2 separate regions of the Homo sapiens genome follow, and region 2 is linked to region 1. The links come from fine-mapping of genetic effects on gene expression. A gene starts in region 1. The other region holds a variant in brackets. All regions are shown on one strand. Distances are between the middles of the regions. Region 1 holds the start of OSBPL2 (oxysterol binding protein like 2). Region 2 overlaps OSBPL2 (oxysterol binding protein like 2).

Region 1 (5,516 bases):
ACAGAGGGAGGATCCTACAAATTCTGTCAGGAAGCAGAAATTTGGTCTGAGAGCAGTGAAGGTGGGAGCAGACACCCCCCAAATCACCTGCAGGATGAGCATTTCTCAGGCTCTAGAGAGCATGTGTGGGACACAGCCGCCAGCCCACCTGGTGCGGGGGTCCAGCAGCCACAGCCATGGGAACTCCTGGGCCTGTTGTTCGTGTGCGGATCCTGGTCCGGGAGCCTGGATGCGGCTCTGCCTTGCCGACAAGCTCCTGGGCCAGGCCTGGTCCACCAGACCTCCCTATGCTTGGAGTGCCTGCTTGTTGTGCCTGGAGCTGTGCTGGGCCCTTCCTCATTGCAGGGCTGGGGGAGTCACTTAACCTGTCTGGGGCTCAGTCTTCTCATCTGTAAAGTGGGAATGATGGCACCTGGTACCCACTTGATTGGCTGTTGCAAACATGAAACCAGATGGGCCTGTAAATCACAGGGCACTCGGCCGCCATCACCATCATCATCATCAACATCATCATCCTCATCATCATGGCCCCAGCTCATCCATCTTTGTTGCCTTCTCCACCCCCATCTTCCATCCTTGGAGAACTGTGCCTCTTGAATTGGCCTCGTGACCTAGTAAAGATCATAACAAAGACGCCTAAGTTGGTCTCAAGGCACCCTCCTTACTACCCACCAACTGAGGGAGGATTCTCGCCTAGTCCCAGCAACTGGCCCCGGGGAGGAAGTACCCTTCCCAGTCCTGGCACGTCTCCAGCAGTGCTGGCTGACGGCAGACTACCCTTGAAGCTCAGTTACTGCATTTGTGGAGAGGGGTGAAACCCCTGCTCCAGCCCAGGGGCCATCTGAGATCACACCCCCAACCCCAAGGCCAGGGTGGATCTCCCTGCTTGGCCCTGGGGTGGTCCCTGGGCAGATGAGAGGGTCCTTCTGCCTGAGCCTCTGAGGCTGCCCTCACTGCAGAGCTCGTGGTCAAGGGGTGGGTGGGCAGGTTGGATCCCCTCAAGGGCACAGGGGTTAGAGTCTTAGAGACTTAGGGTGAGGGACATGGAGAGTGATGGGTTTCTGGGACCCTGAGCTGGCCCTGGCAAGGCCCACAGGGAAAGCTGTGGAGCGCAGTCATCTCCGTGGCAACTGGCCTCATCGTCCTTGTCCTGGCTTGGGGGCCGCACGCCTTCCCTTCCCTTTCACCGGCTGGAGTCGCTTTCTTCAGAGGTAACCATGGCAACCCCTTTGTTTCTGAGGCCTGCCCGCCCTCCTCCCCGTTCTCTCTTCAGGAGAGGCTCAGCCAGCTCCTTCCTGGTCCCGGCACGTCTCTAGTGGCGCCGACTGACAGTGGCCCACCAGTGAGTGGGGCCAGCCCCTGGGGTGGGGGAGAACGGCCCTGCTGGGCCCAGAGATGTGGCCTGGGCCCCACCCCTGCCACAGAGGCCACGTTCATTGGCTCACTCATGCCCTGAAATTTATAGAGAGTACCCACGTCTGCCACGGGGCCACAGATGGGGCAAAGGCCTGTCCCTGCCTCCATGGCCCTGCTAGGGGCAGCCTGGAAGTGGGGAGACAAGGCCTGAGGAGGGGGTGCAGAGGCCCAACGGGGGCTGGCTTTGCTGCAGGACGCACTGCGGGGTCACGGGTCATCTGCCAGAGCTCTCAAGGCCACAGGAAGCCCAGGACTCTTGGCTTTACCTCAAATGGGCTGAAGCAGAAACAAGCATGTGGTTCACGTAACTGAAAAGTCAAGGAAAGGACCTGCTGAGGTGCAGCAGGGTCCACGTGACCCGGCCGTGGTTGCTCCGGCTTTCCTCTGGGCTGGCTTCATTCTCGTGCAGCCCTGTTCTCGGGTAGTGAGATGTGGAAGACTGGCCCCTTCCCTCTCTCACCTAACCCAGCTCTGGAGAGGTCTGTGGGCAGATGGGAGAGTCATTTGACTTCAGCCTCCCCTCCGGTCTGAACTCTGACCCTACAGCAAAAGTCCCAGGACTGAGCCTCTTTGGCTAGAACTGGGTCACAGGCTGACCCCTAAACCAACTGCTGTGACTATGTAGCCAGCCTGGTTTATGCCACTCCACTCACCTCAAACCAGACCCATGACTTCAATGAGATGTTGACAGGGGAACCCTGGTTTGCAGATGAAACTGAGTGATCACAGACTCAGAGAGGTTAATTAATTTGTCCAAATCCACACAGCTGGTAAAGAATGCAAGCTCCAGGTCTGATTCCAGAACTTCTGGGCTTAACCCTGGAGCCACTGTAGGTCAGTGGGAGTCCAAAGGGTTTTAAGTATGGTGGTGAAACGGTCGGGGATGCAGCTGGAGGGGTAAATTGGCGCTGGATTTTGGTTGGCGGTGAATGGCATGCAAAGGAGGTGGACGATATTCAGGATTTGGTAGGACAGTGGAAGCAGCTACGCCCCAGCTATCGCACGGTCCCCAGCATTTGTAGGAAAAAGCCCCCAGGGCTTTGGGTAGCCTCGCAGGCCCGCACTGCCGCCAGGACGCAGTGCACCTGAGGGCGGAGCACCCACGCCCCGGGCCACCTGACTCACTGTTTGTCAACTCTGCTCTCTGCAGCCACGCCCTTTCCTCCTTGCCTCCCTCCCCTTTTGGCTCAGGGGCGGCATAACCCCGCCTCTCTCCTGCTGTGACTGGCTGTCCTTGCCGTCACTCCGCTGCGTGGGCGGGGCTCTGAGGGGGCACAGGTAGAGGCCCTTCGCGAAGGGATTAGCATAGTCCCACCCCCCGGCGCGAGCCTCGGGCCGGGCGCTGATTGGGCAGGCAGCGGCCGACGCGGCGGCGCCGGGCGCAGCGAGTGGCGGGCGCGGGCTGTCAGTCGGCGAGGCGGCGGGCCGCACTTCCGCCTCGGTGTCAGTGGGTCGCGGGCCTACGGGGCGGGGGCGGGGCGGCAGTGAGCTCGGCCGGCAACCGAGGGACCCGCGTCCAGGTGAGTGGCCCCCGCCGCCGCCACGCGAAGGCCCGGGACCCCGGCGAGCTGCGGGGCCTGGGCCGCGGGCTGGGGCTGGAGCCGGGGCGGGGAGGGGAGGGCGGGCCGGGCAGGACCCGGGTCCGCAGGCCGCCTCCAGCCCCGGCCCCGGCCCCGGCCTCGACCCCCACTGGGAGGCGCGCCCGGCCTAGGCCGCAGCCTGGCGCCCCGGGGAAACTTTGGGAGGAAAGTTCCGGCCGGGCGTGGGGCCTGGGCCTGGGTCCCGCGGCCCCCGCACCCTTCCCCCTGCGGTCGCCCGGCAACTGCGATCCCGGGACCCCCGGCCCGGCCCCCCCGAGATCCCCAGCCCCCCTGCTGCCCCGCTGAGCAGGAAGTGGGGACGGGCGCACCTGCTCGCGGCCTCGCCCTCTCTCACCACCTCACCGGGAACAGGGAAGGATTTCGTGCGCATTTAGGGCGATCCTGTAGGTGAGGAGGGCGAGTTCCGCCGGGAAGAAGGGCAGGGAGACGCAGTCCCACTCCGACCCTGGCCTTCTTGTCCCGCAGGCCTGTGTGCACGTCGTCCCGGGGAGGGTGCCCGCGAGCCCTTGTCCGTTCCCCTGGGCTCTGTTTTTGTTTTTAATTTATAAATCTTAGCAGACTACACACGGTTGAGAACTTGCTACCTAAAACCTATCTTTGGTAATGTAATTTTAAGAGGTTCCTTCTTTCGCCAGTTATATTTTGGTACTCAGAAGAATACGTCTTTAGACTTTCCAAGTTTATAAGCCCAGACCAAGACTGTTAGGTCGTCACAGCACCTCAGCCTCCCCGCTTCATGGGAGGACCGGCGACGAGGCAGTGGGTGTCGGGGTGTTGCAGGCTCTCCTGGGGTGAGGGTCACCTCCCAGGGGCGTTTCTATCTGAACCGTCCTCTAGGACAGGCCCTGGCCTAGCCTGGCTCCGGCAGCTTTGGGATGACTGCCCGGAACACCTGGAGAAGGGGTCCCATTCGGTTTGGTTGGATAGACGTTTCTCGAATGCCTGCTGTGGGCCTGGCTGGGTGCTGTGCGGCCTTCCCACCAGCTGGATGTGTGGTGAGGACAGCGGAGAGTTGAGGAGCCCGGAACTGGTGCAGGGGCCACATGCTGGGAAGCCACGGCCGTCCCTGCTGCCCTTCCTAACTCGTGCCCATGGCCTCTTTTCTGGCTGTCAGCCTCAACTCCTTCATCCGGACATGTAGCACTTTGCTGATAAGAGAAGCAAACGAGATCATTTTCTTGTTTTATGTTTTGAGATGGAGTCTCGCTTTGTTGCCCAGGCTGGAGTGCAGTGGTGCGATCTTGACTCACTGCCACCTCCGTCTCCCGGCTTCAAGCCATTCTCCTGCCTTAGCCTCCCATCTAGCTGGGACCACAGGCGCCGGCCACCACGCCCGCCTAATTTTTTTATTTTTAGTAGAGATGGGGTTTTACCATGTTGGCCAGGCTGGTCTCGAACTCCTAACCTCAAGGGATCCGCCTGCCTCAGCCTCCCAAAGTGCTAGGATTCCAGGTGCGAGCCACCGCGCCCTGCCATGAAATCATTTTCTACCACAGTCTCTGACACCTAGTGCGCACCCCGGAATGCCAGTTACCTTCCCCTTGTTGAGGACAGGAACTTTGTCGGTGGCACTTCCTCCCTGCCCAGCCCAGTGCCTGCCACAGTGTCGTCTTTTAGAATGTGGCAATGAGTGAGTGAGTGACTGAGTCTCCCTCATAGAATTTACCCTGTTTTCTTCATGTGTCCATCTATTAATGACAGCTCTTACCCCAGCAGACGATAATATTTAATAATGATTGTTCCAGGACTGTTACGAGCATGTCGTATTCACTTTCTTTGTGTGATCTTCACAACAGTCCACTGGGCAGGTACTGACATTATCCTTAGTTCATTCATGAGGAAGCTAAGGAACAGAGAGGTTAAGTAACTTACCTAAACCACACAGCAGTAAATTATGAAATATGGATTTGAACCCAGGCTCCAGGGTTCACACTCTTAAACACTACCCTGTACTGCCTTTTAATATCAAGATTTTCATTTAACATTTTCGTTTAGAATATTCTAATCATGCTGCATTACTCTGTGTCAGAATTTCGGGATTTTGCTACATATAGAACTAATAGACTTTCTTTTTTGTGAGCCTGAGTGTTTACAAAGCCATTTCATTTTTTCTGAAATAAAGTAATTTACCGTTTGACCATTCAGGATTTTGCCAGAATACCTTCCCTGCCACCCAGCTCCTTTGTTACTGGCAGATTCAGTGGTGGTCTCTGTGTGAAGAGGGAGGACTGAGGGGCATGGGTGCTGACAGGCGTACAGTCCAGACTCTGAGGTCTCCGTTCTGAGTTCAGTTCCAGGGGACTTCACACACTGCCTTAGAGTACACACGTAGGACATTTTTCTTCCACGCCTCGAGTGCGTTGAGAGGGTCAGACTCTGCTGTGTTCCACATGTTAATGAGAGGTGCTGTTTGAATGTGAAAAAAATGCCACTTGACTTTCATCCCAGTGTCTCTCCTCTGTGCCGTCCAGGAGATGCCAGCAGATGGGTCTTGGAATT
Region 2 (5,000 bases), 35 kb after region 1:
CTTGTCCCTCTCTGGGTCCTCTCCTTGTCCCTCTCTGGCCTCTCTGGGTCCTCTCCTTGTCCCTCTCTGGCCTCTCTGGGTCCTCTCCTTGTCCCTCTCTGGGTCCTCTCCTTGTCCCTCTCTGGCCTCTCTGGGTCCTCTCCTTGTCCCTCTCTGGCCTCTCTGGGTCCTTTCCTTGTCCCTTTCTGGTCTCTCTGGTCCTCTCCTTCTCTCCTTGTCCCTCTCCCTCTGCCTCTGCTTTGCCCACCCCAGACCCTGCTCCTTCCTGAAGAGCCTGCCCTGAGGTGACAGCTGTGTTTCCCTGGAATGCCTACTGCCCTTGGGATCCCTTTCCTGGAAGCCCGGTGGGAAGAGTGGCCCCTGTGGGCACTCGTCCCCTTGGCACCTTCCCAGCTTCCCCCACTAAGCCATGCGCCCTGCCGTCCAGGGCCTGGGAGCAGACACCTGAGACTCCTTTGCCAACTCGGAAGGCCTTAGGGGAAAGCCACATGGAGCCATGTTATGGGAGGCCTCATTTGCCAGGTTCAGGTGTGTCCGAGGCATCCTGGAGGGACGGGAAGCCAGGGACTATTTTTAACGGCGTGGGTGGCTCTGCCTGGGACCACTACTCTGTTTTTTTGTTTTTGAGACGGAGTCTGGCTCTGTCTCCCAGGCTGGAGGGCAATAGCATAATATCGGCTCACCGCAACCTTCACCTCCTGGGTTCAAGCGATTCTCCTGCCTCAGCCTCCCGAGTAGCTGGGATTACAGGTGTGCGCCACCATGCACAGCTAATTTTTGAATTTTTAGTATAGACAGGGTTTCGCTGTGTTGGCCAGACTGGTCTTGAACTCCTGACCTCAAGGGATCCACCCGCCTCGGCCTCCCAGGGTGCTTGGATTTTAGGTGTGAGCCACCGTGCCCAGCCTGGGACCACTACTCTGGAAGTGGGGTGGAGAAGATGTGGAGTAGGGGAGGGGGCGCAGGTGGGCCCAAGAGCCCTTGTGGCAGTCTCTGTGTCTGGAATGGGGCGGTGGGCTGGGGAGGCAGAGAGGATTCAGGGGTGTCATGCCAGAGACCTCTGCAGGCTCAGCACAGATTGTGTGTCAGGTCTGATGGCAGCTGAGGCTCACAGGGCAGGGCCGATGGGGCAGGGAGTGGCTCACCCATGGGGGGTTTGAAGATCCGGTTCAACCCCAGAGGCTGCGGCTCCATGAAGGGATGCTCAGAGCAGGGGCATCGGGCAGCCCAGCGGTGTCAGGAAGGCAGCAGTAACCAGCGAGTCTTCCCCATCTTTCCAGGAGCTGTCCAAGATCACGATGCCAATCGCCTTCAACGAGCCTCTGAGCTTCTTGCAGCGGATCACGGAGTACATGGAGCACGTGTACCTCATCCACAGGGCCTCCTGCCAGCCCCAGCCCCTGGAGAGGATGCAGGTGGGCCTTAGGGGTGCCAGGCAGGAGTTTGTCATGAAAGTGATGCCCCTTGCATGTCTGGCCACACAGTCTTGGGGCCCCAGGCATCTGTGAGGACTCGCACAGCTCCCCCCAGTGTTCAGTGCCATCCTGCCTGGCGGTCGTGGCATTTGTCCTGTCACCACAGGTGTGTGATGACAGAACTTGCCGGAAATGCCATTGAGCTCTCAGTGGCCCCAAGAGCTCCCTGCTGCCGCCTCCTGCCGGGAGACTCCGCCTCTTGGAGCTGAAGGTGGCGGTGGGCTCTGCCCTTGGGCTTCTCTTGGGTCCTGTTGCACCACCGCACCCCATGTGTGTGCATGTGTGTGACTGTGGGCTGGGCACGCACGGTGGCTCATGCCTGTAATCCCAACACTTCGGGAGGCTGAGGTGGATGAATTGCTCCTGGAGGTTGAGACCAGCTGAGGCAACACAGTGAGACCGCATCTCTACAAAAATTTTTTAAAACTTAGCCAGGTGCAGTGTTGCATGCCTGCAATGCCAGCTACTTGGGAGGCTGATGAGAGAGGATCGCTTGTGCCCAGGAGCTAGAGGCTACAGTGAGCCACGATTACGCCACTGCACTCCAGCCTGGGTGACAGAGTGAGACCCTGTGTCTAAAAAATAACAAAATACAAGTGTGTGACTGTGGGTGCACATAACGTGTGCACGTGTGTGCGCATGCCTCTGTGAATGAGTGCTTGGGGTGTGTGTGTTGAGTGTGTGGCCTTGTGTGTGCATATCAGACGGAGTGGCTGACATTGCTGCAGCATCTGCCAGAAGGGCCTGGCTCCGGGGGTGGAAGGCAGCACCCAGTTCCTTCTTTCTGTGCTGTCGGGGGAGTGGCGGGTGATGAAGGGCATTCCCTGGAAGTCCTATAATCTCAGACACACTGCTCGGGGAAAACTGAAAACGCACACGGAACAAATAGTGACAGAAACCAGGTGCCCACCGCCCTCCACAAGAGGCCATCTTCTCCAGCGCGTTTCCTAACTGAAGCTGTGCCTGTCCCCCCCGTGGATTATTTACAGTCTGTGGCTGCTTTTGCTGTTTCGGCTGTGGCTTCCCAGTGGGAGAGGACCGGCAAACCATTTAATCCACTCTTGGGAGAAACGTATGAATTAATCAGGTAAGGGGGGAAAGGCCCATCATAAATATCTTGTAAATGGAATTCCTTGGATGACAGATAAGTTTGATTCTTTCACTAGCATTGATTCCTCTGCTCTGAGAATAAACTGTTTGAATTAAGAGCTCACGAAAGCGTTTGGATGCTGTAGGCGAGATGTTTCACACACACGGGGTGTTGTGCTAGCGTGCCACGGCGTCTGAGTGAGTGTAAAGCGCTGGCAATGAGATATTTTAGTGTGTTCGACTCAAGCGTGGAGATAGCGCGCACTGTAGACGCTTCCGTGTGTGTGTGCGACGTCTGTGAAATGTGTAGGATTGTTGTGAGCTTCACCGAAAATGGAAATAGGTACTAATGAGCAAAACTAGGCTGTTT[C/T]ACTAAAGCATTTAGTGAACGCTATTGAAAAAGCAGGTAAATCCAAACACAGGAATGATTGCAAAGAGGAGCTTCACTCCCAAGGCCACGTTTGCCACCACAGCCTCCCCAGAGTTTTAGGAAGGGTCAGACGGCTCTGGCCAAGGGAGAGTTAACCAGACCACGCCTCATCTCCAGACATCCCTGAAACTTCTTCCTATGGAACTTTCTTCTAGGCAGCGTTGCCATCCCTTCCTAGAGTCTCCCCAGCTTCCCTCCTGTCTCTGGTGGCCCTCACCTCACAGACGTGAGACTGACTCCAAGTCCTAGAACTCTGACCCCAGAGGTCCAGCCGGGCCCCAGATCCGTTGTTTGTGGCTGGGCCTCTGGAAGGACTGGTTGGGGTTCTCTTCACCCACCTGGTTGCCCTGGGGACTGCTGTGGTTATTCACAGAATCATCCTGGGATTCTGCCCAGGTGACAGTGCCCACCCACACCAACAAATGAAGTCAAAAGCAGGCCAGACCATGGCATGTATGTGGCAGTGTGGTAATTCCTCAGCCATTGAGCAGCCTGGCTGGGGCTCCGGGGAGCTGTGGATGAGAGGGATGTGGGTGGCTTCCTTCAGGGCCGTTTGGTGATGTCTAAAATGATTTTTATTCCACTGCCCGTGGACCCCGTCATTCTCTTGTAGATGCATGCAGGTGCCCATGGGCAGATGTGTAGGGAGAGTCAGCAGAGCACAGTTCAGCTGCTGTCTCTGTGACAGGGCTAAGCTGTGGTTCTGAAGGAGGGAGGGGCAGGGCACTCTCGCTGCACCCTTCAGTCTTCCGACTGTCGAGGTAGCCCAGCACACAGAGCTCACTCTGGGAAGAAGGAGCTTGCTGGTGGGACACCCTTCACTCTTCTGACTGTCAGTGGAGCCCAGCACACAGAGCTCGCTCCGCCTGCCTGGGGAGAAGGAGCTGGAGGGGCGTGGGTGGTTATCTAGACAAGTCTGCTGTGCAGAATGCAAGCTGTTTGCCACAGGCTGCTGGGCTGCACGCCTCCCTGCCCAGGAACAGAGTGCAGACGGGAGGGAAGGCGGGCTCCTTTATCATCTTGTTTTATTATTTTTCTGTGAAAAAGGGAGTTGAGCCAAAACAATTAGCCTCTTATTTGGATTCTGGGTTAGTTGAGATTCTGTTGGGTTATTTTATTATGAAGTCTGTTTGTTTTTTTAATTACGAGAGAGTGCTCTTTATAGAAAATGTGTAACATTGAGAAAGGTAGAAAAGATGAATCAGGCATAATCCCATACAAGACAATAGCTGGCTGGGCTCACGCCTGGAATACCTGCAACTCAGGAGGCGAGGCAGGAGCATCACTTGAGCCCAGGAGTTCAGTTACAGTGACCGTGCCACTGAACTCTAACCTGGACTACAGAGCCAGACCGTGTCTCTTTAAAAAAAATGAGAGGAACTGTCAGCATTTTGTTAGACTTTCTTTTGTGTGTGTTTCAAAATATGATAATTTAATTTGTATCCCTTTTTAACATGTCATAATTTTCCTGTGACATTAAAAACTTTTTCTAAATTAGAGTGTTTCATCGATTCTAAGACGCCTTGTTCACGTGGCAGCACTTCTACATGTCAGTTTCTTGTTCCTTTTTTTTTTTTTGAGACGAGGTCTCACTCTGTCGCCCAGGCTGAAGTTCAGTGACATGATCACGGCTCACTGTAGCCTCGACCTCCTGCCTTAACCTCCTGGATATGATCACAGCTCACTGTAGCCTCGACCTCCTGGGCTCAAGTTATCTTCCCACCTCAGCCTCCCAAGTAGCTGGAACTACAGGCGTGCGCCACCATGCCCAGCTAATTTTTGTATTTTCAGTAGAGACAGGGTTTTGCTGTGTTGCCCAGGCTGCTCTTGAACTCCTGAGCTCAAGTGATCTGCCTCCCTCAGCCTCCCAAAGTGCTAGGATTACAGGTGTGAGCCTCTGTGCCCAGTCCAAGTCATAGTTTCATTTGCAGCATTTTTTTCTTTCTTTCATAAAATAATGGTGTGCAGTGCAATGAATGGCATCTTGGGTTCCAAGAAGTGCAGTT

The links. PIP is the estimated chance that this variant, and not a neighbour inherited with it, causes the effect.
Region 2: its variant is fine-mapped to the expression of OSBPL2 in blood mononuclear cells (TOPMed, PIP 0.93).

Annotation. Positions count from the first base shown.
Region 1 is chr20:62,235,662-62,241,177 of GRCh38, forward strand. OSBPL2 (oxysterol binding protein like 2) reads left to right here and starts at 2,860. Exons shown (of 14, transcript NM_144498.4): 1 at 2,860-2,936. It overlaps LOC105369209 (a long non-coding RNA gene), which reads left to right. Exons shown (of 4, transcript NR_160555.1): 4 at 1-640. RefSeq lists a silencer at 2,588-2,987 and an enhancer at 3,685-4,609.
Region 2 is chr20:62,270,845-62,275,844 of GRCh38, forward strand. It overlaps OSBPL2 (oxysterol binding protein like 2), which reads left to right. Exons shown (of 14, transcript NM_144498.4): 5 at 1,281-1,415; 6 at 2,465-2,562. Among named protein-coding and RNA genes, the nearest start is that of ADRM1, 30 kb to the right of the region's middle. The variant C/T (reference allele first, on the strand shown) is at 2,935.